Linked DNA regions of Homo sapiens: region 2 is linked to region 1. Evidence: fine-mapped expression QTL. A gene starts in region 1. The other region holds a variant in brackets. All regions are shown on one strand. Distances are from middle to middle. Region 1 holds the start of SECTM1 (secreted and transmembrane 1). Region 2 has its middle 8.0 kb from the start of LINC01970.

Region 1 (5,361 bases):
GGTTGCAGTGAGCCGAAATCGCACCACTGCACTCCAGCCTGGGCGACAGAGCAAGACTCTGTCTCCAAAAAAAAGAAAAGCAAATGCTCCAGGACCTTGGGGATTTTAAGAATATGCTGCCGAATAATTTGGAGAGTTAAACAGAAAATCATAACTGAAATCTACAAATTCCTCGAACAGAAAGGAAATGAAACTCCACATGTCACCTGGCACAGCAGAGGCTGTGATTCAAGGACAGGCTGAGGGTGAATGAATCCACACATCCGCTCTAAGATGCCTGATCCCAGCATTGTATAGAAATGGAAAGATACGGCCGGGTGCAGTGGCTCACGCCTGTAATCCAGCACTTTGGGAGGCCAAGATGGGCGGATCACAAGGTCAGGAGATCCAGACCATCCTGGCTAACACGGTGAAACCCCGTCTCTACTAAAAATACAGAAAAATTAGCTGGGCGTGGTGGCGGGCGCCTGTAGTCCCAGCTACTCAGGAGGCTGAGGCAGGAGAATGGTGTGAACCCAGGAGGCAGAGCTTGCAGTGAGCCGAGATTGCGCCACTGCACTCCAGCCTGGGCGACAGAGCGAGACTCCGTCTCAAAACAAAAAAAAGAAATGGAAAGATACTGCCCAGATGTGGTGGCTCACACCTGTAACCCCAGCACTTTGGGAGGCCAAGGCAGGCGGACCACCTGAGGTCAGGAGTTCGAGACCAGCTTGGCCAACATGATGAAATCCTATTTCTACTAAAACTACAAAAATTAGCTGGGCGTGGTGATACATGCCTGCAATCCCAACTACTCAGAAGGCTGAGGTGGGAGAATCAGTTGAACCTGGGAGGCAGAGGTTGCAGTGATCGAGACTGCAGCACTGCACTCCAGCCTGGGCAACAGAGACTCCGTCTCAAAAAAAAGAAAGAAATAAACGTGAGTGGATGGCTGTGCTGTTTGTATGGACCAGGAAAACTTCTAGAAGGATAGGTAAGGCAGTGTCCATAACTCAACCTGGGAATTGAAGCCAGGGTGGGGAGGAAAAGGCAACAGTTGGTTTCATTCTATTTTGTTTCTGTGCCTGTATTACTTCCAAAATAAACAAACTAGTTTCACTTTCACAACATGAAATGCTTTATCAGGATATGCGTTTTCCTCCAACCCCCAGTGGTGTCCCCTCACGGGACAAAAGCCTGCCAGCCTTCAGCTGCCCTCCAGAGCCTCACGGTGCAGGTGCTCCTGCCTAAGCAGCCGGACCCCCCTGCCCCCAGGAACTGCAGCCCCCTCTGAGTTGAGAGATCTAGTAGGCAGGAAAAAAGGAGAAGGAAGCTGTGGCTGCTGGGGGATGTGGCCTCGGGGACAAGCCCCTCTGTGCAGAGGACGTGGGCAGGTGGGATTTCAGCCCCCTCTCCAGCATCTCACTGGCAGCCAGGGTGGCTGGGGTTTCCCCGAGGGCGGGGGCTGGGGAATCTGACCTCTGTGCCCCGGCCATGGTGCCGTCTTGCTGGGAGGATGACAGGCTGTGTTTCACCTGCCAATTTGGCGACAGTTTCTCTTTTGGAACATCCCGGGGGACTTTGTTCTGTGCCACCCACCTCTGGACCCTGGGTCTGATGGCTGAGCTGCAGGCTCCAAGGTTCAGCGTCCAGTCTGGCCCTGCTCCGTCCATTCCCCACATTTGAGGGTTTCCCGGAGTTTGGTTCTGCTTCTTCCTCTCTTCCATGAAACTGGGGGCATTGCCCACGCCCCAGTGTCCCCCATCATCTGCCCGGTGGGGACTTGCCCACTCACGTGACTGCAGCCTGTGGGGCCTCCTCCTAGTGTCCCGAAGATACCTGGTCATCCTTGACCCCGCCCGCACCTGCCCGCGTGCCCCCTCGGGTTCTAGTGGAGGACGTGGCCCGCCTGCCACCCCGCCAGGCGCCGGGTCCTCCAGGCCTCCTCGAGCCACCTCCTGCCCACCTGGGATGTCTGTGGGTTCCCGGCCCGGATGCGTCTTGGAGCCTTCTACCCGCACCCCAATCTCCTGCCCCAACAGGCTGGGCCCCTCCTCCCGGGCTGGCCAGGCCAGCACCTCCGCAGGGGCCGCAGGACGCCTGAAGGCCCAGGCCGCAGGTGCAGGACCCTCTGCGGGGGAGCTGGGGGACATCACTCCTCTGCTCTGCGCGCTTTTATGAAAGGGCCTCTGACCCTCCGGGGGTCCAGCTCACTCTGCCCGCGCACTCCCAGGCATCTGGGGGCCGCCCCCCGCCCTCCCTCCCCGCGGCCCACTCGGCCCGCCCAGCTCGCCCCGTGCACAGACTCGAGGCCTCCAGGAGCGGAGCCAAACAGCCCCGCGGGGAACGCGCGCCGCACGCGAGCTGGACCCGCCCAGGCACGAACTCTCCTGGAAAAATGCTCCCGGCGGCTTTCCTGCTTCCTTTAGCGTGAACCGCGGGTGCGGTGCCTCCCGTGAAAATAATAAATTCACCGTCACGCTTGTTGTGAACGCGGGTGGTTCCCGAAACTTGGAGGCTTCCCGTAAACCCAGCTCCTTCCTCATCTGGGAGGTGGGTCCCGCGCGGGTCCGCCGCCTCCTCCCTGGCCCCTCCCTCTCGTGTCTTTCATTTTCCTGGGGCTCCGGGGCGCGGAGAAGCTGCATCCCAGAGGAGCGCGTCCAGGAGCGGACCCGGTGAGGCGCGGAGAGGGGCGGGCGGGGGAACCAGAGGGGCGGGCTCGGTGCTGGGGACTCGGTGCTGGGGACTCGGTGCTGGGGACTCGGTGCTGAGGGCCCGGTGCTGGGGACTCGGTGCTGGGGGCTCGGTGTTAGGGCCTCTTGGTGCACTGGGGTTGCCGGTCCGCGCAGGGATGGGGACTCTGGGGCTGCGGCGCCTCTGCCTCTGGGACCGTCACCCCCCGCTGGCCCTGAGCGTGCGTCGCAGGCCAGGCGGGCGGGGTCGCAGCGGGCGTACCCGAGTATGGGCGGGAACGAGCTGCCGGCCGGTGTGGGGACCCGCGTCCCTGCCCTGTGCGCCAGGCTCGACTCTTGAAGGGACAGAGGCGGCGTCTCGGACCCGGGGCTCCCCTAAGTCCGATGGGTCGGAGCCCCCTCCTCCCTTCCCGGTCCTCGGCCTCACCCGGGGTTCCCTGCGCCGTCGCTGCGACCAAGCTGGGAGCAAAACGCACTCGCTCATATGCGTGCACACAAGCTGGTGGACACACGCACATGAGCACACGCAGGCACGCGTGGACTGTTGCACACTCCACAGCCACAGCCTCGTGTGCACTCACAGCAAACTCATGAAACAGGAACCGTGAGGCTTCCCTCACCCGGCAGGCCCTCAGCTGCCCGTTCTCACGCGGGTTTTGCTGACTCCGCAGTAATCACCACATTCAGTTCCTTGCCCACTACTGGTGAATCACCTGCAGCTTGAGAAGCACGTTTTCTGCCGGTGGTCAGCAGAGGATCCCCGGCTTCTAGGAGGCCCAGGGCGACCGGCTGCAGGAGCCCGCGTAGGAGGCCTGTCTCCAGCAGGGCGGGGGTGGTGGCAGGGCCTCTCCACGGGGCTGCTGCTGAGCCCAGAGCGGGAGGACAGGAGGCCACCAGCAGAGGGGACAGGTGAACAGGTGCTGAGCAGGAAGGGTTAGCCCGGTCTAGCCCCAGGCCTGGGGGGCTTTGCTGCTCACCTGGGGTCCCCTCTGGGCCTGGCTCAGCAGAGACCAGGGCAGAGCCGTCCACACCGTGGGCCTGGGTGGGGTCCATGGCCTCTGCAGGCTGCAGCTGTCTTCTGAGAGGTGTTGGTGTGCTCATTCTCGGTAGAGACGTGGGGTCACCTGTGTTCCCTGAGCCCCTGCAGCAGCTGGGAAAGCAGTGTCAGCCACCCCTCAGGTGCTGTGGGGGTACAGAGTCCACTGACCACACAGGAGGACCCCAATGAACCCAGCCCGAGGGGGCCGGAGCTTCCACACACCCAGCACCCATGGGAGCCGGGACAGGCAGGCGCCCGGGGCACCAGGGAGCGGGAACAGGCATGCGCAGGCGTGCTGGGCGGTGCGTGAACTTTCCTAGGCGTGTCACTGGCATGGCTCCAAGCCTGCGCATCATCGCTTGTCAGGGAGCACTCAGACCCTGCCGTGTCTGGTGCCGGCGCCTCAGATACCGACCCCTGTGTTCGTGGTTTGAGAGAAATCTGATTGCCGCCTCCATCTTTTCCCGCTCTAGAAGTTTGTTTTTTGTTTTGTTTGGTTTGAGACGGAGTTTCGCTCTTGTTGCCCAGGCTGGAATGTAGTGGCCAGATCTTGGCTCACCACAACCTCCACCTCCCTGGTTCAAGCGATTCTCCTGCCTCAGCCTCCCAAGTAACTGGGATTACAGGCGTGCACCACCACGCCCGGCTAATTTTTTTGTATTTTTAGTAGAGACGGGGTTTCACCACGTTGTTCAGACTGGTCTCAAACTCCCGACCTCAGGTGATCCACCTGCCTCAGCCTCCCAAAGTGCTGGGATTGCAGGCATGCGCCACCGCGCCCGGCCCACTCTAGAAGTTTTGAGGCTCCGTGCGCCTCGTCTCCCTGTACCTGGTCTCCCTGTGCCAGGTCTCCCTGTGCCACACACGGAGCTGCCCGGCCAGTCACCGCCCACCTGGCCACTTTCCCTGGGGCCGCGCCCTGCCGCCTGCCCTCTCTCTGATTTTTAGCCACTGCGTGGCATTCAACTCAAGCCCACGCCTCTGGTCAGGAGGATGGCAGGAGAGGACTCAGGCAGACGGGCAGAGTGGCAGAGCTGCCAACAAAAACGCAGGATACCCAGTAACATCTGAGTTTGAGATCGTTAATCGTGTTTTAATATAAGTGTGTCCCGAGTGTCCCACGGGACAAGCTTTCACCAGGACATCATTGGTTGTTTATCTGAGACTCAGATGTGACCAGATGTGCCTGGTGACCTGAGAGGGGCCTGTGTTGCCAGGGTGCGTTTTCTTCTGATAAACGGAGCAAATTCCCACAGCAACCCAAAGTCGCTGACACCTGCTGCCCAGACAGAGCTGGGGCCACGCATGGTCCGCAGCCTGAAGCCTCGGGGTAGAGCCAGACCTGCCGCTCTCCTCCCGGTCTCCCCCCAGCTCCCTACCCCCTGAGCCCTTCAAAGTCATTCTCAAGCCAAAGACAGGGGTCTTCCAGGCCCAGGGCTCCCCTCCACGGCTGACTCATTCCACACCTTTCCCGCCACTTGCCGGGTGTGGACCGACAGGAAGGGCACCGCCACCTGCTCCTAGTACCCTCCAGCCCATCCCTTGCCGCCCTTCACCCCTGGCTGGACAAGGGTCAGGGTCGCCAACATTGGAGGGCACTCAGTGGGGAGCTGGTGAAGGTGCTGGGAGGAAGGGAGGACCGGGGAGAGG
Region 2 (5,361 bases), 33 kb after region 1:
TTCCTTACCCACAGACTGGGGGCTGCTGTGGGATTTGGGAAATGGCTCCCAGAGGCTGGAGCAGAAGGCCTGGCTCCAAGGCTGGAGTGCCTGGCCATCCGTGGCCATGGAGGGAAAGCCGCGGTGTAGAGGTGCGGAGCCGGCCAGACCCACGCCCCCAGCTGCTCAGCAAGCTCAAGCTGAGACTCGGGCCGGGGCTGACCGCTGGGGGCTGAGCTCCCTGATTCTCACAGTGGTCGCGGAGGCGGCATCCTGCCTCTGTCTCTCTTCTGCCACAGAATTCACCCCCGGAGCAGGGCTCCAAACCACCGCCCACCCCTGGCCTGGGGCCTCCAGCAGGCGCCCTAGCTACCTGGGACTCCTCCATCCATGACAGGACTGCCTGTCCTAATAAGACCCCTGCCTGGGTTTCTACCCCAGCAGCCCCTGACGGCCTCTGTCATGAAGGATGGAACTTCCCAGCCCTGCTAAAGGCTCAGCACCCGAAAGACCGCCTTCAGCTTTGGGCCCAGCCGCTCCCAGCCCCATAATGCAGGCCGGGAGAGGGTCACCCAGACGGAGGACGCCCCGCCTGCCTCAGGCCTCCTGGGTCCGTACGCTGGTGGTGACTTGGAAGAGGGCTTCTCTGGGGAGGGGCCCCAAGCCCCATGGAAGTGGTTTTGCTCAGGTCGGGGGCTGCATCCCCTCACCCTCCCCAGTCTCCCTCCCAGGAGCAGCAGCTGGCAGCCAGGTCCCGGGGCGGCACCAGGAGATGGTCACTGCCGATCCTGCCTGGCTGAGACCCCGGGCTCTGGGACCAGGCTGCCCCGCTCCCTGCATCCGCCCTCACCCCGAGCTTCAGAAACCTCAGTACAAGGGGGTGATCTGCAAAGGGACCTGGGCTTTTCCAACTCCCTCTCCTTGTGGCGGGTCCTAATTTCACGTTTTCTGGTCTTCAAAGTCCCAGCCTGGGAAGCCGAAGAGACCCACTTCTCTTTAAGGCCTTGGGCCTGGCCACTCGGCCGCCGGCCTCCCCAAGCACACCTCACACTCGGAGAAAGGGCCGAGCAGCCTGTGTGGGCGGGTAAACCGCGTTCCCACCAGCGCAGACACCACTTCCTACCTGCAGCGGAGGCCCAGTGCCAGCTGCTGCTTAGCTTCCCAGCGAGCCAGCCCCACCCAACCCCTCCTTGAAGACAAGAGGGGTCCAGGAAGAGCAGTGAGGGGGGGCCCAGAAACTGGGGTCCCTGTGGGGGAGACAGAGGACTGCAAAGGGAGTACAGGGCGTGTGGGGTAGCCCCCTTCTCACCCAGATGTGAGAGGATACAGGCCCTCCCTGGCACTCCCAGGAGAGACCGCCTTGACCCTCAGAGTCCTCTACCGTTCCTCCCACACCCTCAGCGGGGCAGGACCGAAACCTCAGATCCCCCAGGCGCCTGCCTTTCCCACACCTGGGGGTGGTGGCTGGGGACCGGGCTAGTCTGCACAGGCCCCCTGCTGCTCTCCCAGCTCCGTGGGCCCCAACCTCCCTGCTGAGGGCTGTCACTTGCCGGGCTAGGGGACCATGGGCCAGAGAGCAGGGGTCCACCCCAGAAGCCCCTGCACTCCTGCCATCTCCGGGACCAGCTCTGGGGCCCCAGCAAGGACATGCACCCCCTGGTCCTGGTCACCAAACTCCATGCGGGGGGCCTTGAGACAGCACAGTGGGGGGCCTTAAGACGGACGAAGTGGCCAGTCACATTGTCCCCATAGCTGCCAGGAAGGACATTGTGTGCACCCCAGGGCTGGCTTTCAAGCACGCTGGGACCCCTGCCTGGGCCCTCTCTCCACACCAACCCAGGGCTCCAAGGCCCCTGCCCCTTTCCCACCATCATGAGCCACCCCTGCCCCTGCCCTCAACACCCTGATGAGAAAGCCCGCGTCACCTTCTCCCTCCTCCCAGGGAGAGCCCTCAGCTCAGCCTGCGCTGCTGTGCCCTCCGGCCCTGCTCCCTGGTGTCTGGGCTGAACCCGACTGCCCACCCAGCCATCCAGGGCACTGTGGCCTGGGGTCCCCAGGGATGCACTTCAGTGGTCCCCCTCCTGCCCAGCTCACCCCTCCTGGCCCTTTCCCCACCTCGGCCCATCAGCCTGGCACCTCAGTGCCACCCGGACCTCCCCCATCAGCCTGGCACCTCAGTGCCACCCGGACCTCCTTTCTGGGTACATCTGGGTTTGTGGGGCCTGAGGCTTCTCCACGTCCGGGGGCAAGAGAGAGTCCCAGGGGGCAGCTTTCTTCACACACGCCCTGCACACCTCCCCCGAGGCCCATCTGGAACCCCTCCTCTCTGCTGAAATCTTCTGGGCCAGCCCCGGCCTGCCCTGACCCGGGTTGGGCCTGCCTCTGAGGCCTCTACTGCCCGCAGGCGGCTCCAGCATGTGGCCTCCCAGCTCGGTGGGCCATGGCATCCTGCAGGAGAAATGCCAGCTGCGCCGGGCTGGCCCCAGCCGAGAAGGACTGCCTGCCCTCTGGTGGCGGGACGGGGCGTGGGTGGGAGACCGCCTGCCAGCGCTTCCTGGCCTGGAAGGGAGTTGGGCTAACAGGTGGGGAAACTGAGGCCCA[G/A]AGGTAGCAGAGACTTTTGACAAGAGATGGAGCCCCCCTCCCCGCCAGGGCACCTCAAGGTGAATTCCCAGTCGGCTGGGCAGTCATGGACCAATGGGAAGGTCCCCCCAGGGCTGTCGCCCTCTCACAGAGAAATGTACATCCCACACGTTCTGCATGCTTTGGGGAGAGTCCAGGGTTAGGAAGCCCAGAGTATGGGATTTGTTTTTTTTTTGAGATGGAGTCTCGCTCTGTCGCCAGGCTGGACTGCAATGGCATGATCTCAGCTCACTGAAACCTCTGACTCCCTGGTTCAAGCGAGTCTCCTGCCTCAGCCTTCCGAGTAGCTGGGATTACAGGCACGCGCCACCACACCCAGCTACATTTTGTATTTTTAGTAGAGACAGGGTTTCACCACGTCGGCCAGGATGGTCTTGATCTGACCTCGTGGTCCGCCTGCCTCGGCCTCCCAAAGTGGGATTACAGGTGTGAGCCACCGTACCCGGCCCAGAGTATGGGACTTTAAGAGCCAGCCTGAGAGCTGGGGTTTGTTGGGAGCAGCAGGGCTCACACCCCAAAGTCAGCGGTGTGTGGAACTTCAGGGGACAGTGGGCAAGCAGCCCATCTTCTCAGCACACAGAGAGGTCCCGAAGCCAGTAAGGAAGAGAAGAATGCACGGTCCGGTCTCAAACAAGATAACAGCTTAGATACATGTGAAAATGCCCAACTGCACTCACTGTTACAGAAATGCAAAGTGCAATTTGCACCCATGAAATTGTAAGCTTCAAAAATCCGTAGTCCAGTATTGGCGACAGCTTGGGAACACAGACGGTCTCCTGCACCAGGTTTTGTTCACAGAATAGAAGAGGAATGCACACAACACAAGAAGAGAATAGCAACCTGGCCAGCGCAGGACTCAGCCTGTAACCCCAGCACTGTGGGAGGCCGAGGTTCAAGACCAGCCTGGCCAACATGGCGAAACCCCGTCTCTACTAAAAATACAAAAATTCACTGGGCGTGGTGGCAAGTGCCTGTAATCCCAGCTACTCAGGAGGCTGAGGCAAGGAGAATTGCTTGAACCCAGGAGGCAGAGGTTGCAGCGAGCTGAGATCGCACCACTGCACTCCAGCCTGTGTGGCAGAGTGAGACTCCGCCTCAAAAAAAAAAAAAGAAAAGAAAAGAAAAGAAAAGGAAAATAGCAACCCACCAGAAAAGTGGGAGGTGCCTGAGGAGATGCAGAGGCCGGGACTCAGGCGTGCCCCTCACCGTGTCGGGGACCTCGCAGCCTCAGAGCCTGGCCACCCATTGGTCCCTCGAAGGAGAAAGACCTGACCTTGGTCCCATAGTCCAGCCCCTTCCACCTCTTGAATTTTTACCATGGACCTCGGGCCTCTTCTGGGTTTGTTGGTTGGTTGGTTTTGTTTTACTGAGTTACTCCTGGAAGGCTGGCAGGAAGTTAGGCATTCACTTGGTTCTTTCCACAGCAATTGTGGGGACTTTATGTGCCCGGCCCAGGCTCAGTGTTGGAGATGGGGCCCAAATCCCTGCCCCGCTGCCCTCCCGCCGGCCTGCCCTGTGACCTCCAGCTCCCACGTGGCTTCCCAGATGCTCCTCAGCCAGCCCCACAGTCGCAGAAGGCCAAGGCCCCTTAAATCCCCCATTTTATAGAAACCTGTAGGTGCCCCCTAGAGCTTCTGCTGCTCTGAACCCACCCTGGTGCATGGCGTGTCCCTGCATCACGTGTGCCCACCTGCCTCCTCAGATGCAATTCTGACATCTTCAGACGCAATTCTGACATCTTCATGACCCCACATTCAACTCCCTGCAGGGCCCGAGGCCACCGTCCAGTGAGGGGCATGCCCTGGGTCCCGTCCTCTGGGACTTTACCAACATTCGGTCACTGTGGATGCCTGGAGCTCCAGGGCTTTTGCCAACAGAGTGGAGAGCTCCTCCTTCTGAACACGGTCTCCAGTCCCATCTCCCAGACCTCCGGCTTGTCACCCCAGGCCCTTCGGGAGTGAAAATCACGACCCTGCCCACTGGGCCCGTCTGCAAGGCTTAAGCCAGCGTTCTGCAGGTGGACAGTGGCTGTCCCATTTCCCGGAGCTCCCTGGGCCCCCTGCCGCCCCCCTGGAGCCCTGGTCTGGCTGTTGGCAGCCTCCCCTTCTCCTCTGCTGCCTTGGAAGGTGTGGGAGCCTCTGCGGGGTCCCGCCTCTCCCTCATGCCACACTCTCCCCTCTGTGCCCTTGCTCAGCCCCAAGTTCCCTGGCCACATCGCAGGTGGCAGGCGCTGACATTGCCTCTGCCAGCCCCAGAGCCCGGCCCCGGGCACCTCTACCACCTACAGGGTCCTCAACTGTAGCTCTGACCCTGGAGGACTGTGGAAGGCTGCTCTGGCTAGAGTGACCCGCCAGGTCCAGGGATATCCTGTGGGGACAGGGAGGAGCTTGGAGCTGGGCGAGGGGGCGCCGTCCTCAGGAAGGTTGCCCAGCCGCTCGCTGCAGCTCTGAGGTTTGGCAAAGGTTCCACTCTGCCGAGCTGGTGTTTGTGTGATCATTTCCTTGCAATGACGTGGGTTCCACTGCTCACAGTCCCCAGGGCATGTCATCCCTCCCAGCCCACAACTTCCGGGTAGACGGTGCCGGGGGTTTACTGAAGGAGACAATCGGGGTGTTGGATGGAAACCTGCCCCTCAGGGCAAGCATCTGGGGTGGGGACACAGCACACGCAGCCTCCAGCAAACACGAGGGGCCGGAAGGGGCTCAGGCCCAAGTGCGCCCTCACCAGACCCGCTCCCCACAC

The links.
Region 2: its variant is fine-mapped to the expression of SECTM1 in whole blood (INTERVAL, PIP 0.97).

What each region holds. Positions count from the first base shown.
Region 1 is chr17:82,330,993-82,336,353 of GRCh38, reverse strand. SECTM1 (secreted and transmembrane 1) reads left to right here and starts at 2,588. Exons shown (of 5, transcript NM_003004.3): 1 at 2,588-2,654. RefSeq lists enhancers at 1,165-1,234, 3,282-4,084 and a silencer at 3,961-4,245.
Region 2 is chr17:82,298,096-82,303,456 of GRCh38, reverse strand. No RefSeq gene overlaps it. Among named protein-coding and RNA genes, the nearest start is that of LINC01970, 8.0 kb to the right of the region's middle. RefSeq lists enhancers at 1,160-1,279, 1,460-1,509, 2,240-2,299, 2,310-2,359, 2,370-2,449 and 3 more. The variant G/A (reference allele first, on the strand shown) is at 2,581.